Regions from separate parts of the Homo sapiens genome. Here region 2 is linked to region 1. A link means that fine-mapping ties the variant in region 1 to the expression of a gene that starts in the linked region. Tissue or cell type: whole blood. Region 1 holds a variant in brackets; the other region holds the start of a gene. All regions are shown on one strand. Distances are between the middles of the regions.

The links. PIP is the estimated chance that this variant, and not a neighbour inherited with it, causes the effect.
Region 2: it holds the start of PTPN20, and the variant in region 1 is fine-mapped to the expression of PTPN20 in whole blood (TOPMed, PIP above 0.99). The same link has a PIP of 0.9 or more in lung.

Annotation. Positions count from the first base shown.
Region 1 is chr10:46,989,792-46,997,984 of GRCh38, reverse strand. The region is part of intron 9 of PTPN20 (protein tyrosine phosphatase non-receptor type 20); the gene reads right to left. Among named protein-coding and RNA genes, the nearest start is that of PTPN20, 82 kb to the right of the region's middle. The variant G/A (reference allele first, on the strand shown) is at 3,409.
Region 2 is chr10:46,907,863-46,916,055 of GRCh38, reverse strand. It overlaps PTPN20 (protein tyrosine phosphatase non-receptor type 20), which reads right to left and starts at 4,628. Exons shown (of 11, transcript NM_001042357.5): 1 at 4,555-4,628.

The sequences.
Region 1 (8,193 bases):
ATGAGCAATACAGTTTCTCCAAATCTTCACATAATTCTCCAAATCCTCACCAGCATTTCCAAATCTTCATCAGCATGGGGTGCTGTCACTATTTTTACATAAGCCTTTCTGATAGGTGTGTAATGCTACTCCATCCTGGTTTTAATTAGCATTTCCCCAAGGGCTAATGAAGCTGAGCATCTTTTCACGTGCTTGTCATCTGTATGTTCTCTTTGGTGAACTGTCTGTTCATGTCTTTTACCCATTTCTGTTTTTCTTTTTTTTTTAACTATTGATTTTTGAGGGTTCCTTATAAATTCTAGATCCAAGGCCTTTGTTGGATATGTGCCCTGCATATAGTTACTCTCTAGCTTGTTTTTTTTTTTTTATCCTCTTCATTGGGTCTTTCACAAAACATAAAATTTTAGTTTGCTTTCCCTCTGAGATCAGTGATGGCAACAACGCCTGCTCTCACCACTCTTATTCAATATAGCACTTGACATTTTAGTACAGCAATAAGACCAGAAAATAAGTAGGATGTATACAGATTGTATACAGATCAAAAAGGAAGAGACAAATCTATATGCACATGGCATGACTGTCTATGTAGAACACACTAAAGAATCTAAAAAAAAAAAAACCTACAAAACCTCTAAGAGCTAATAAGTAATTTCAACAAGATCACAGGGTACAAGATCAACAAATGAAAATCAATTAAATTTCTACGTACTAGCAATGAATATGTGGAAACTGAAAGTACAAACACAATACCATTTACAATTGCTCCAAAGAAAATGAATAGGGTAAATTTAACAAAACATATACAAGATCTATACACTGAAAATGACAAAATGCTGATGCAAGAATTCAAAAAAGACCTAAATAAATACACTTACCATGTTCATGGATTGGAAGATTCAATACAGTAAAGATATCAGCTCTCTCCAATTAAACTACAGATTTAAAGTAATTTCCATCCAAATCCCAGCAAGTTTTGTGTAGATGTAGCCAAACTAATTCTAAAATTTATTAGAGAAAGCACAGACCCTAGGATAGCTCAAACAATTTTGAAAAAGGAGAATAACGTGGGAGGAATCATTCTATCTGATGTTAAAGCTTACTATATCACTACAATAATCCAAAGGGTGGTACCGGCAGAAGGATAGACACACTAATCAATAGAACAGAATACGGAACCAGAAATAGGCCCATACAAATATGCCCAATAATTTTTGACAAAGGTACAACAATAATTCAATAGAGGAATAACAGAATTTTCAATAAATGATATTGAAACAACTAGCCATCAATAGGCCAAAAAATGAATCTTCACCTAAATTTAATAATTTATTAACTCAAAATGGACTATGGACTTAAATGTCAAATATGAACTTACAGAATTTTCATAAAAGAACACAAAAAAATTATTCAGGCCCTCAGCTAAGTGATGAGCTGTTAGACTTGATATCAAAACATGATCCATAAAAGGAAAAACTAATAAAATACAATCTCATCAGAATTAAAAACTGTAACTTCTTTAAAAGCATTTTTTTAATTATAATTTAAGATTAGGCAAATTATGGAAATACATTTGAATTACTAATTTTTAATCAGTTTACTGACTATAAAACAAGCATGACTGGACTGTTCAGTTAAGAAAAGACACAGCTTTCCAAATGTGGCTGTAGTGGTTAACCAAATAATGAAGATGGAAGTGACTGCAATGAAATGAAGACAAAGAGTTATATAATTTTCACTTGGAGTTATGATTCCTCATATATTGAGTTTTATAGTCATTATTGATTGTGAAGCTCTAAAACTACACTTGTGTTATTTCCAAAGATGTACTGGTTAACAAAGCAAAGGAACCATTAAGACTTATTTGTAATTTACATAAAAAATAATTAATTCAAAGATAAAATAATTATCTTAAAGAGAATTAGATTAAAAAGACAAGAGAGGACTTCTGGTTCCAAAATAACAGTGTAGAAGCAAGCTGGCTTCACTTCTTTACAAAGAAAACCAAAACCAAATATACAGCACTGAAATTATCACCAACAATATCCCAGAAATCAAATACGAGGAGAAGACAGTTCCTGGATCCACAGAGATGGGAAAAAAACTCTAAGTAGGCAGTAAGAGAATTGGGTTTCCACATCTGCAATGCCCATTTCTCCAATTTGCCCAGCACCAAGAGTGCAAAAAATCTCCACCTGATTCATGATTTCTATACCAGAAAAGGTGACATCCAGGTTTCCCACCATCTGGGTTACCTGGCAGGAAACCTGTCCCTACCTCAACCCACAGGAAGCACTACATGTGCCTGAAGAAAGAAATACCCTGAGAAGAGTCAGAAACAAACAGGTGAGGTGGGACTACCATCCCCAGCCCTGGAAACTCTGGTCTGTAACTCAGCTAAAGGAGATGCCAAACCAGAGTGGTTGTTTAGTAGCACCACATTGCAGAAGATACATTGCACAGGACCCCTGGGCATGAATCTCTAGCCACCTTTCCCACACTGCCATGATATCTCCTTTGAGACTTTCCCTAATTGGAATGAGCAGCTCTCTTATTGTTTACTGGAGCCAAGGCAAACTTGGTCGTAAGGTGACATCTAGTGCCAAAAAGAAGGCAGCAACTTAGCCCCTCACCAAAAAAAAAAAAAAAAAAAAGAAAAAAAAAATTCGACAGGTAAATTACATAGAATCTATAACCAAATACATTCAATAAAAAACAAAAATAAGCCAGACAGAGAACACTGGAATAAATAACTAATCCTTCATTCAAAGACATCAATACAAGATATATATTTCTTGCACATCCAGAAGAAACTGCAGTCAACACAAAACCATGACCTCCCCAAATGGATAAAGCAAGGAACCAGTGACTGACCCTCATGAGATAGCCATATAAGAGCTCCCTGATCAAAAATTCAAACTAGTATTAATAGCTTTGAGGAAACTCAGAGATCTCCAAGGTAACAGAACACCAATTCAAAAATTTATTAGACAAACTTAACAAAGAGATTGAAATAATTTAAAAATCAAATAGAAATCTTGGAGCTGAGAAATATATTAGCTGAACTGAAAAATTCATTACAGCCTCACAATAGCAGAATGAATCAAGCAGAGGAAAGAATCAGGGAGCTTGAAAACCGGCTACTTGAAAATGCAGTCATAGGTGGAAAAAGAATAAAAAAGAATGAAGATCATCACCAAATATAGACAATTACCTCAAAAGACCAAATCCAAAAATTACTGGTGTTCAAGAGGGAGTTGAACAAGAGCAAGGGGTAGGAAGCTTATTCAAAGAAATAATAACAAAACTTTCCAAAATGCAACAGATATAAATATTCAGGTATAAGAGCATCAGGGCCGGGCGCGGTGGCTCACGCTTGTAATCCCAGCACTTTGGGAGGCCGAGGCGGGC[G/A]GATCACGAGGTCAGGAGATCGAGACCATCCTGGCTAACACGGTGAAACCCCGTCTCTACTAAAAAAATACAAAAAAATTAGCCGGGCGTGATGGCGGGCGCCTGTAGTCCCAGCTACTTGGGAGGCTGAGGCAGGAGAATGGCGTGAACCTGGGAGGCGGCGGAGCTTGCAGTGAGCCGAGATTGCGCCACTGCACTCCCGCCTGGGCCACAGAGCGAGACTCCGTCTCAAAAAAAAAAAAAAAAAAAAAAAAGAGCATCAGAGAACACCAAACATATTCAACCCAAATAAGGCTACACCAAAGCATAAAATAATAAAACTCTCAAAGCTCAAGGATAAAGAGAGGATCCTAAAAAGTAGCAGGAGAAAAGAAGTAATTAACATATAAAAGAGCTCCAATTCATCTGACAATTGACTCTCAACAGAAATCATATAGGCCAGGAGGAAGTGGGATAAATTTTCAAAGTGTTGAAAGAAAAAAAAAACCTGTTATCCAAGAACACTATATTCAGCAAAGGTACTTTTAAATATGAAGGAGTGATAAAGTATTTTTCAGATAAACAAAATCTGAGGATTCAACAGCAGCAGACCTGACTTACAAGAAATGCTAAAGCGAGTTCTTCAGAAGGAAAATAAAAAAATACAAAAAACCACATACACATTCAAAAAGAAAACTTTTCAAGGCATAAAATCCACTGGTAACATTAACAACATGGACAAAACCAGAATACTCTATTATTGTAATGATGGTGTGCAATCCATGCCTAACTCTGGTATGAAGCTGAAAGATAAACTCATAAAAAGCCGTAATAGCTACAGCAACCTATTAAGAGAAAGGTAATATAAAAATACACAAATTTAGATAATAAGCAGTTGAAATGTGGTGGGGATGGAGTTAAAGCATAGAGAATTTTTTTAAAATTTTTTCTTTGTTTCTATTCTTTACTTTGTGATCTAAGATAAGTTGTCACTTCTTTAAAATAGCTTATTGAGATCCACTCAAGGCAAAAAGAACTGGGAAGTCCCCACAGCTGTCTGCTGGGCAGAAAACCCTAGGCTATGGGTGCCACATCAGCTATACACCCACGGCAACACCGCCCTGCCTGGAGATCTCACACCCCTGACCTACTGCATCAACAAACCATCTGTAGGTCTACTGCACAATTAGCTCTGACTCCCAAGCACAGAGGATCAGCAGGCCTCCAGTGTGCTGTGGATCTCCTGGTGACCTAATCTTTGGCTCGAGCTGCCCCAAGGGAGGAGAGAGCACAGGCTGCCAGGGTTCCCCTTGGGGTTAAAGAGATGTGGGCATGGTGCCAGTGACTGGAGGGGGCTCCCCTAAGGCCTGGAAATGGACCTGGCAGGGGATCATCGCTACCCCTTCCCACCACCCCCACTGCTGCAAATGTGCTGGAATACAAAAGAGCCATGTGACTGAGAGTCTATTTGCCGGCCATTATTCTCAAGCACCATCTACTGGATTGAAGCCTAAATTACAACACCCCAAACTCTTCCAGTATACACTGCCTGTGAAATCCAGTGCCAGAATCTAGCCACAAGTATTAATAAATATCCCATACAGAGTGTTGGCCCTCTGAAAGCACCCAGAAATAAAGCCAACTGACTATACTCAGCTTATGCTACAGTCAAACCCACAAGGGATACAAAGAATATAAAAACAAAAAGCCTCATCGAAATGATAGCAAATTCAACAAGATAAAAGAACACGTGCCCTCTCAGAAGAGAAAGATTTAATGCAAGAACTTTGGCAATTCAAAAAGTCAGTGCCTCCTTATCTCCAAACAATTGTACTAGCTCGCCAGAAATTGTTCTTAACTAAATTGAGATGGCTGAAATGACAAACATAGAACTCAGAATCTGGGTGGTAAGGAAGCTTAATGAGATTCAGGAGACAGCTGAAACCTAATCCAAGGAATTTGGTAAAATGATCCAAGAGTTAAAAAGTTGACAAAGCCATTTTAAGAAACAAACAAACTGACCTTCTGGAATTGAAAAATTCACTACAGAAATTTCATAATACAGTTGGAAGCATTAACAACGGAATAGACCAAGATGAGGAAAGAATCTCAGAGCTCAAAGATTGGTCCTTCAAATCAATTCAGTCAGACAAAAATAAAGAAAAAAGAATTTCGGGCCAGGGGTGGTGGCTCATGCCTATGATCCCAGCACTTTGGGAGGCTGAGGTGGGAGGATCTCTTGGGGCCAGGAGTTTGAGACCTGCCTGGCCAACATGGTGAAACCCCATCTCTACTAAAAATACAAAAACTAGTGAGGCTTGGTGGCACGCGCTTGTAGTCCCAGTTACTCAGGAGGCTGAGGCATGAAAATTGCTTGAACCTGAGAGGTGGAGGATGTAGTGAGCTGAGATCACGCCACTGCACTCCAGCCTGGGCGACAGACCAAGACTCTGTCTCAAAAAAAAAAAAAAAAAAATTGAAAATGAACAAAACCTCCAAGAAATAAGAGATTATGTAAAGAGACCAAACCTATGACTCACTGGCATTTCTGAAAGAGAAGAAGAGTAAACAACTTGGAAAACATATTTGAAAATATAGTGCGCAAAACTTTTCCCAATCTCACTAGAGAAGTCAATAGGCAAATTTAAGAAATTCAGCAAAGTCCTGTGAGATACCATACAAGATGACCATCCTCAAGACATATAGTTAACAGATTCACCAAGGTCAATGCAAAAGAAAAAATCTTAAAGGCAGCTAGAGAGAAAGGTCAGCTTACTTACAAAGGAAATCCCATCAGGCTAGGAGTAGACCTCTCAGCAGAAACTTACAAGTGAGAAGAAACTGTGGACCTATTTTCAGCATTATTAAATAAAATAAACTCCAAACAATAATTTGATATTCTTCCAAAGAAAGCTTCATAAGCAAAGGAGAAATAAAATCCTTTTCAGACAATCAAAGCTAAGGAAATTCATGAGCACTAGACCAGTCTTACAAGAAGTCCTTAAGGAAGTGCTAAATGTGGAAATGAAAGAACAGTACCTGGCACCACAAAAACACAAGTACATGGCCCACAGACACCATAAAGGAGATACACAATCAAATCTACAAAGCAACCAGCCAACAATGTGATGACAGCATCAAAATCTCACATATTGATATAAACCTTGAAGGCAAATGGTCTAAATACCCAACTTAAAAGGCTTAGGATGGCAAAATGGATTAAAAAAATAAGGCCCAACCATATTCTGTCTTCAAGAGACCCATCTCACATGTAAGAACACCCACAGGCTCAAAGTAAAGGGATGGAGAAAGATCTATCATGCAAATGGAAAACAAAAGGAAAGCAGGGGTCACTATTCTTATATCAGATAAAACAGACTTTAAACCAACAATGATCTAAAAGGACAAAGTAGGGCATTACACAGTGACAAAGGGAAAAATTCAAAAAGAAGAGTTAACTATCTTAAATATACACACAGCTAACATTGGAGCACCCGGATTCATAAAACAAGTTCTTCTGGACCTATGAAAAGACTTAGTCACACAATAATATTGGGAGCCTTCAACACCCAACTGGCAGGATTAGAGAGATCATCAAAGCGAAAAATTAATTAATAAAGAAATTCTGGTCTTAAATTCAACACTTGACCAATTGGACTCAATAAATATCTACAGACTAGTCCACTCCAAAACCATAGGATATACAGTCTTCTTATCTGCACATGGAATATACTCTAAGATCGACTATATGCTCAGCCATAAAGCAAATCTGAAAAAGATTAAAAACACTGAAATCATCTCAAGCATACTCTCAGACCACAGTACAATAAAAACAGAAATTACTACCAAGAAGATCTCCCAAAACTACACAATTACTTGGAAATTAAACAACTTGCTCCTAAATGACTTTTGGGTAAACAAATGAATTCAGAAATCAAAAAAATTCTTTGAAATTAATGAAAACAGAGACAAAACAAATCAAAATCTTTGGGATGCAGCTAAAGCAGTGCTAAGAGTATAGTTTATAGTGCTAAATGCCTACATCAAAGAAGTTAGGAAGATCTTAAATGAACAACCTGATGTCTCACCTAGAGAAACTAGAAAAAAAGAACGAATCAATCCCAAACTAGCAGAAGAAAACAAATAACCAAAATCAGAGCAGAACTGAATGAAATTAAGATGGAAAAATGCATACGAAAGATCAACAAACAATTTTTTTTTTTTTGAGATGGAGTCTCGCTCTGTCTCCCAGGCTGGAGTGCAGTGACACAATCTCAGCTCACTGCAACCTCTGCCTCTTGGGTTCAAGCAATTCTCCTGTCTCAGCTTCCCAAGTAGCTGGGACTGCAGGTGCATGCCATCACACCTGGCTAATTTTTGTATTTTTAGTAGAGACGGGGTTTCGCCATATTGATCAGGCTGGTCTCGAACTCCTGACCTCAGGTGATCCACCCGCCTCGGCCTCCCAAAGTGCTGGGATCACAGGCATGAGCCACCGCGCCTGGTCTGTTTTTTGAAAGAATAAACAAAATTGATAGACTGCTAGCTAAACAACAAAAAAAGGAAAATCTAAGCCCAATCAGAAATGACAAAGATGACATTACAACTAATCCCACAGAAATATAAAAGATCTTCAGAGATTATTATAAATATCTATGCACACGAAAAATAGAAAATCTAGAGGAAATGAGTAAATTCCTGAAAACTCCCAAGATTCAACCAGGAAGAAATTCCTGTTCAAGAAAACCTGAACAGACCAATAATGAATTCCAAAAGTGAATCAGTAATAAAAATCCTACCAACCAA
Region 2 (8,193 bases), 82 kb after region 1:
AAGGAACCCAGTCACAGCCATCTACAGAGGAGCGTTAAGAGAAAATTAATTTAGACCACCAGGAAGCTGCATGTTGTAATGCATGATTCCCAATTTCAGCTGCACATTAGAATTAGCTGGAGAGCTTTGCAAAATCCCAATTCCAGGCCACACCAGACCAACAAAATCTGAATCTCTGAGAATGGAACACCAGCACTGGTCATTTTTTTTTTTTTTTTTAGACGGAGTCTTGCTCTGTTGCCACGCTGGAGTGCAGTGGTGCCATCTTGGCTCACTACAACCCCCACCTCCCAGATTCCAGTGATTCTCCTGCCTCAGCCTCCCAAGTAACTGGAACTACAGGTGCATGCCACCACGCCCAGCTAATTTTTGTATTTTTAGTAGAAATGGGGCTTCACCATGCTGGCCAGGATGGTCTTGATCTCTTGACTTCGTGATCCGCCCGCCTCAGCCTCCCAAAGTGCTGGGATTACAGGCGTAAGCCACCACACCCAGCCAAGCACTGGTAATTTTAAAGTTCCCAGGTGATCCCAGTGTGCACTCAAAGTTGAGAATCACTGAAAAAATGGAACCTAGACCTTGGAAATGTACACAACTGAGTGTGCAAGCTACTTAACCTCCCTTAGCCTCAAAATTCTCATCTACAACATGGGAAATATATGTACCTCCCAGAGTTGCTGAAATATTGAGATTCTATATAAGGCTCTCAGGAAATGTAAATTCTCATCCCCAAGGGAAACTTGATCAAATCTTCATAGCTTAGGGTAAGAAATGCTAATTCTACCAGCAATTCACATTTTTCATTGTTAGCTGATTATTTTATTGAACATTTACATTGAGGAAATTCAGAAATGCTCATTTTTCCACTTTCCTGGTGGTAAGATGCTGCCTGAAGCTATGTTTAAATTTTCAAGAGTAAATAAACTATGGCGGGAAATCTAGCTGACTATGCCAGTGAATCTCAAACCTAGCTGTACATTAGAATCATCTCAGAAATTTTTTTAAAGAAACACACGTATGTCCAGAACTCACCAGGCCAAATTAAATCAGAATCCCTGGGGTGGCTCCAGAATATCAGTATTTTTTAAAAAAGCTGATAGAAAGGTAATTGTAAAACACAGTCAGGGCTTAAAAGCACTGATTTGTACTAACGATATGCCATGCTAACTGCACATCACAGTCACTTGGGGAGCTCTTAAAAAAGTTGATTGATTCCAGAACCCTACCGAGACTTACTGATTCAGAATCTGTGGAAGTGGAGCCTGTCATTGTGCAAATCTTCATAAAACTCCCCACTGGTGATTCTGATGCAAACTCACTGAGAACCACTACTTTGTATCATACATTTACTCTACGTGTTGTATATCAGAAAGATCATTTAAAACTTTCAGTGGTCTCAAATGCCAAGCCTGCCAGTTACTTTTAATCAGTAACTGACACAACACATCACAGTAACTCCAATGACTTTACAGATCTTTTCAGAACACTTTTATGTCCAGCCCACTGACCCACATCACCTACCCTATGCTGTGCCAAATACTGGCTATGTAGTCCGTTGGTATTTCTAACCAAATTCCTCTAAATGGGCTGCTGATCTGGGAAAAGCAACATGGAATCACATTACTCCCCAAGCCTTATTCCCCTTTGCTAAGTGGTATGTAATGCCAGGATTAATGAAATGAACTCTATTGGTCAAATGAGTCTGAATGAAATCTGAGTTGTTGTCTGCTCCTGGAAGCAAACTGTTATCTATTTGTTTCCCTCAGAGAGATAAACTCAGAGGAAACAGGAGTGATCCCTGAGGTGGGAATAATATAGTGGGCTGCAATTTTAAAACTCTGCTTAGACAATAACAGGACACTTGGAATCTTATTTTGATAGATCAAACCAATCAGTATATACAGCACCATGGTGGTACTACCAGGCAGGTGATAATAGTAGCATTTAAACAACCAGGCACTATATTAGGCATATTAAATATATTAACTCATGTGATTCTCAACTGCGATGATAATAGCCCTATCAGGCAGGTACTATTATTATTTCCATTTTGTCAAAAAAGAAACAAAGGCACACAGAAGTTAGATGATTTACCCAAAGTCCCATAGCTACTAAGTGGCAGTTTTCTGAAACCAGGCAATCTGGCTTTGGAGTCCAACATCTTAAGTACTCCACTGCAATGCAGATGAGTGATGGCCAAGCAGTTTAAAAAAAAAGAAAAAGTTATTGTCTGCAGTAGAAACTGGAGGTCAGGGTATGGGTACCTTGGGCAAATTACTTAACCTCTTGGAGCCTATTTTTGCATCTGAAAAATCAGGATAATAATTGTACCTGCCTTGTAGAGCTGAGGTGATGATTAAACAAGATTAGGCATGTGATGTGCTTAGAAAAGTACTTGGCACTTTTAAGAGCTTTCTGTCAGCCATTATTATTATTTGTATTTTAAAACAGCTCAAGTGGTCAGGGAGAAATGAAAATCTATTAAACTGAAAATTTTCCTGCCAATCTTAGATTTGTAGATTCTGTAGATTACCAGTACATCAGATCCAATATGAAATGCAGTCATAAAAGATTTTCACAAAAACTTAAGGACTGTCACTGTGACAAACCCCAGCCCAAACAGTCCAGGACAATGGCTCTAAAAAGCAAACATCTTCAATTATCAAGCTGTGTACATGTAAACACAACAGGAACCAGACTTCTGAGTAGCTGCAAACTGCAGTTCTCTGTGATGGGAGAACATGCCCCAGAACAGCCTGTCAAGTGGTAATTGCCAGCCATCCTCAGTCACATATGTATAAACAGAAAAGAAAAACAAAACGAGGGCTCAAATAAAAAGCGTTAACATTCATTAAACGCCTGACACTCTATTAAATGTTTTTCATGCATTACCTTCTTTAATCCTCACAACACCCTTCCAAAGTTGAACATGAAACAACCACACTGGTTTATATCACTTTAAATGTAAGACTACACGTCTCAAATGGGCCCTGAGCACTGCCTGGGAATCCAACTCTATTTCTCTAGTACGCTCACTTTCACCCTCTCTAGGACTCTGTCACATATCTCTCCTCCAAGTTCCCACACCTTTCCTCTCCCCCGCTGCCCTCCCTCTAAGCTGATGGATGCCTATACCAATAGACTCTTTTCCCACCACCCACTGTATCTGCACCTGTTATCTCAGCTTCCCCTCTAGTTACAACAGAGTAAGTGTCCCTGCTCATTTCAAAACCAACTACTCACCTGCTTAGGGTCTTCTCCTTTCTCAGGTATTCAACAACTACCCTTTACAATGTTCCCCTCTTTCATCTGCAGCAGTTTTTCCTTTCTACGAGTTTAATCACATTGCCATATAAACATTCTGCTTTCTTCTATCTTGAAAAAAACTCTACCCAACCTTAAGGCCCCTCTTCCCCATTAAAGTTGTTCTTGTCAAAATGATTAAAATCCTCCTAATTACCAAAGTCATCTTATACGGTAACATTCAACATGGTTGACCACTACCTCCCTCCCTTTTTTGGCTTCGCCTCCTCTTCTTTGTGTACACTATTAAACTAGATGTCTTCACCAGTCCCATATATTTTAAATACTATGTACAGTATATGATGCCGATTCCAAAGGTTAACTCTAGCCCGACATCCTCCAGAACTTCAGATTTAAATTTCTAAAAAGCACATTTGATATCTCAACCCAAATATCTACTAGATAATTTATGTGTGTATATTTCACCATACTAAAAAAAACTACCAGGTGACTGATAAATGGAGAGAAGGTGAATAGGTAATGTGAAAAATCAAATGTGCTAAATATTCATGGCACCTGTAGGTGGTAGGTGGTCAGAGTCCTCTGCAAAATTCTTCCCAGCTATGCTTATGTCTTCTATTGGGAAAAACCTACTGGGCATCTCAAACCTAACACATTCAAAACATAAGTACTGATTCCACAACTTCCAAAAATGAAACCTACCCCATCCTACAGTTTTCCTTGAGTCAAGGCTAGCATATGAGGGCCTTGGCATATGGGGGCATTGCCTATCGCGTTCATAGATATTCTGAGCTTCTAGAACAGCATCTGGCACACAGGAGGCGTTCAAAATAGCTGCTGAATGGATTGATGAATTCATGTTCTTTCTTTCTAGGTCCCTCGACCTCCACCCGCCCTTGAGTCATTGGGAAGTTCTGGGCTGTCTCAGCGCCTGATGATGGCTTCTTACCAATCATACCACACGGCTGCTCCTCAGGGAGTTGGTGGCATTCCCCTACCACAGAGCCACAGGGTTCCTGTCCCGGTCCCGTCTCGCATAGGCGCCCCAACACGCGTCACAGTGCAGCTGGCATCACACGGCCAGAATCACGTCCTGCCCTCTGGCTGCAGCGACACTACTTCACAGCTCAGGCCCACCCGGGCAGTCTCCCGGGCCAGGGCCACAACCCACGCCTTGTGACCCCTGCACGTCAACGGCATCTTCCTTCTTCACGCCCGCCCTCCCACAGCCCGGCGCAGCGGCCTCCCGCACGCCCCCTGCCCACCTGGCCCCCAGCCACCTTTCCTCACCTGGGCCTGCGGGGCCGCCCCAACTGTCCCGCTGCAACCCCAGCAGCCTCGCCAGTTGGGTCCACGCCTAGCCTGCCGGCCTTCGTCGCTATCCAATCCCACCTGCGCCCGCGAGCCTGCGCACTGGAGCTTTGCCCTGCGCCGCGGCACTCTGCCCTGCGCCGCGGCCCTCTGCTTGCCAGGCCGGGAGAGACAGAACCTGCCTCTACCGGTCTTCCAAGGCACTGAGAGCCCATCGCCGCGGACGCCGCTGTAAATTCCCTGCGGGCCCTGTGCACCACCCTGTGCGGGTCCCCCTCTCCCAGGCCAGGCTGATAATGTCAACAGCTCTCTGAGCTATGCTCATATCCTGAACCACTGAGGACTGTGTTCTCCAGGAATGCTCGCCTGACCCACGCCTGCCCTCTAAGCCCCTAATGAGGCCCCAGAGGGCTGGGGTGGGGGGGTCTCTTTGTAGTATCAGAGCAGGGCAGATAGGCAAAAGGAGTCAGAGCCTGTGCCAGAATATGAGGTCAGTTGGCTGCTAGGTCAATTAAGACAACTTCAGCAAGGGTGGTCAATGTAGAGGGAATTCAATCGTTGGCATTGCCTGAAAACAGGAAGCCAGAATCTTTTTATCTTGACGAACAAACCTCTATTCATTGGTCCTGACCTGAGCCACTTTGGTGAATCCAGATACCCTGAAGGTGTGACAAGACCTGCCTCACTTATCCCCCAGCCTTCAGTGCTGGTCCCACAGAGAGCCATATGCTTGAGCTGAACTGCAGTTAAGCAGTGACAGCTACCCTCTGTCCAGGCTCTGAGGCCAGCCTTCTGCTCCGTGAGTCACTGACAGTGAGTCTCTACAGAGACTTTTTCTTTCTGTAGCAGCCAAGGTACCCTGCAAGCAACCCACGCCATTGCCATATGTCTTAGTTTGTTTGTGTTGCTATAAAGCAATACCTGAGGCTGGGTAATTTATAAAGAAAAGAGGTTTGTTAGTTTCACAGTTTCACAGGCTGTAAAAGAAACATGGCACCACCACCCGCTTTTGATGAGGGCCTCAGGAAGCTTCCACTCATGGCAGAAGACAAAGGAGAGCCAATGTGTGCAAGACAGAGGAAGAGAGAGAGGTGGGAGGTGCCAGGCTCTTTTCCATGACCAGTTCTCATGAAAACAAAGACTAAGAACTCACTCAGTTCCATGAGACTAGCACCAAGTCATTCATAAAGGATCTACCCACATGACCCAGACACTTCCCACCAGGCCCCACCTCCAACATTGGGGATCAAATTTCAACACTAGATTTTATTTATTTATTTATTTATTTTGAGATGGAGTCTCGCTCTGTCGCCCAGGCTGGAGTGCAGTGGCGTGATCTCAGCTCACTGTAATCTCCACCTCCCCAGTTCAAGTGATTCTCCTGCCTCAGCCTCCCCAGTAGCTGGGACTACAGGAGCATGCCACCATGCCTGGCTAATTTTTGTATTTTTAGTAGAGACGAGGTTTCACTGTGTTGGCCAGGCTGGTCTTGAACACCTGACCTCAGGTGATCCGCCCGCCTCAGCCTCCCAAAGTGCTGGGATTACAGGCATGAGCCAACGCACCCAGCCCAACATTAGATTTAGATGGGACAAATATCCAAACTATATCACCAGGGTAAGATTCCCCTTTAAAGATGGACCCCATGTCTAATGTTTCTTCATAGTGCCTAACATCAAGATTCTGCACTGGTCATCATTTCACAAACATGAGCAGCATGGCTGCTCCAAGACACACAGAGGGAATAACCCCCATTCACATCACCAGGAAATCCTTGCATGGAGGCTAAATGAACAGTTGGTAAGAGTGGACCCTGAGGTGTCATTCCATCTCCCCCAGACTTCCTGCTTGACCACACAATATTCCCAGAAGCCAGTGACCCAGAAGGCTCTTCTTGGCTTTCTGTCCTTTTACCTGTGAAAAATTCGAAGAACTATAAAGTTTAGGGCCCATCACAGTTTACTACCCTTCTTTGGAGGCCTCTTTAAACCCTTGAGTCTTACCAATTACCAGTAGCACTAGGAGCTTTGCAAGCCTGGCCTTAAGTCCCTGCTTTGCTACTGAATAGTTGGTGACCTTTGGCAGGTTACTTCCCAACTTGTGTCTCAGTTTTCCTTTTTTTAAAAAAGGAGACACAGTTGCAAGTGTTTAATGAGACAAAAAACAGAAGCATTCATCACCACGCCTGGCAGTGAACACTGCTTTTCTTGCTCAAGAGGTTTGAGCCATACGCTTCTCTAGGTCTGTGACTCTCCCAGAGTTTCTGGGAGTTCCTCTGTGAGCAACAGACCCACTGCAGTCTCCATACTTCAGGGGTAAGCCTGGATGCCCTTCACACATCAGTCTGGATGAGTTCATGCACCACTCATCCAAAAGTGAATCCAAAAGTGATTCCAAAAGCAGAGGCCAGAGATCTAGTTGCTAATGTTGCCTCTCCTCATGGTTCTAGGATTCAGCCACACAGGGCTTCCCATTGCAGCTTCAGGTCCTCCTCACTCCCCAGTGCAGGCCCAGTTTCACTCTCAGGTCCTCCAGCCCAGGCCTCAGTTCTGCCTCTTTTAGTCCATCCCTCCAGATCCACTTTCCAACAGGGCTGGGAAGTCGCTTGGTTGTCCCCTGCCTGCTGCACCACAGCCCCCAGACACCGCCTCCTTATTTCCTGCATGGTCCGAGGCTCAATGCTAATCCCTGGGTGTCTTAGTCTGTTTTGTGCTGCTATAACAGAATTCCTGAGCCTGGATAATTTGTAAAGAACAAAACATTTTTTTCTCACAGTTCTGGAGAATGGGAAGTCCAAGATCAGGTGCCAGCATCTGGTGTGAGTCTTCTTGCTGCATCCTCCAGAGGAGAGGAACATTGTGTCCTCATGTGGCAGAAGGCAGAGAGCAAATAGGAAAAAGGAAGGCAAACTCACCCTCTTCTAATAGCATTAATCTCACCCAGAAGGACAGAGTCCTCATGGTCCTTTCACCTCCCGAAGGTCCCACCTCCTAACACTGCCACAGCAGCAACCAAATTTCTTTGAATATTAATACATGAGTGTGGGAGGGGACAAACATTCAAATCATCACACTGGGAAGGCTCAGCTGGAGGAGCAGAATTGGCCAGCACAGGGAGGTAATGCTGGGTTTGGAATTTTTGTCTTTGCAGTCCTTGGCCTTGATCCGGATACCCAGACGCCCTCTGAGATGGACCTTGAGGGCCGTGCCAATGTCTGCTCTCTGCTGAGGTAGGGCTCATCTACTCCTTACAAGTATAAGAACTTACTGCCAAACATACCCTCCTCCAAGCCATGGGTCCCCAGATACAGTCAGGAGGACCCCAGTGGATAGCTGGAACTCAGGACCTCAGGAGAGATCCCAAGGCCTATGCTCGAGTTCAGAGTTTTCTAATTCAGGCTTGGAGCCCAGGAACAGAAGATAACTAAGAACAATACTGACAGAAAAAAATAATCACTTCATTGACATTACCCTTCACAGGACCGCCTGCTTCAGGCCTGTGCTTTGCAGCCTGGTTCATTTGGGAATGGTATGCTTCACACCCAGCCCTGTTAAGTGTGAGTTGATGAGGACCATGAGCTTGGAAGAAGCCGTGGGGGCCTCTCTGTGTGTTTCTCTC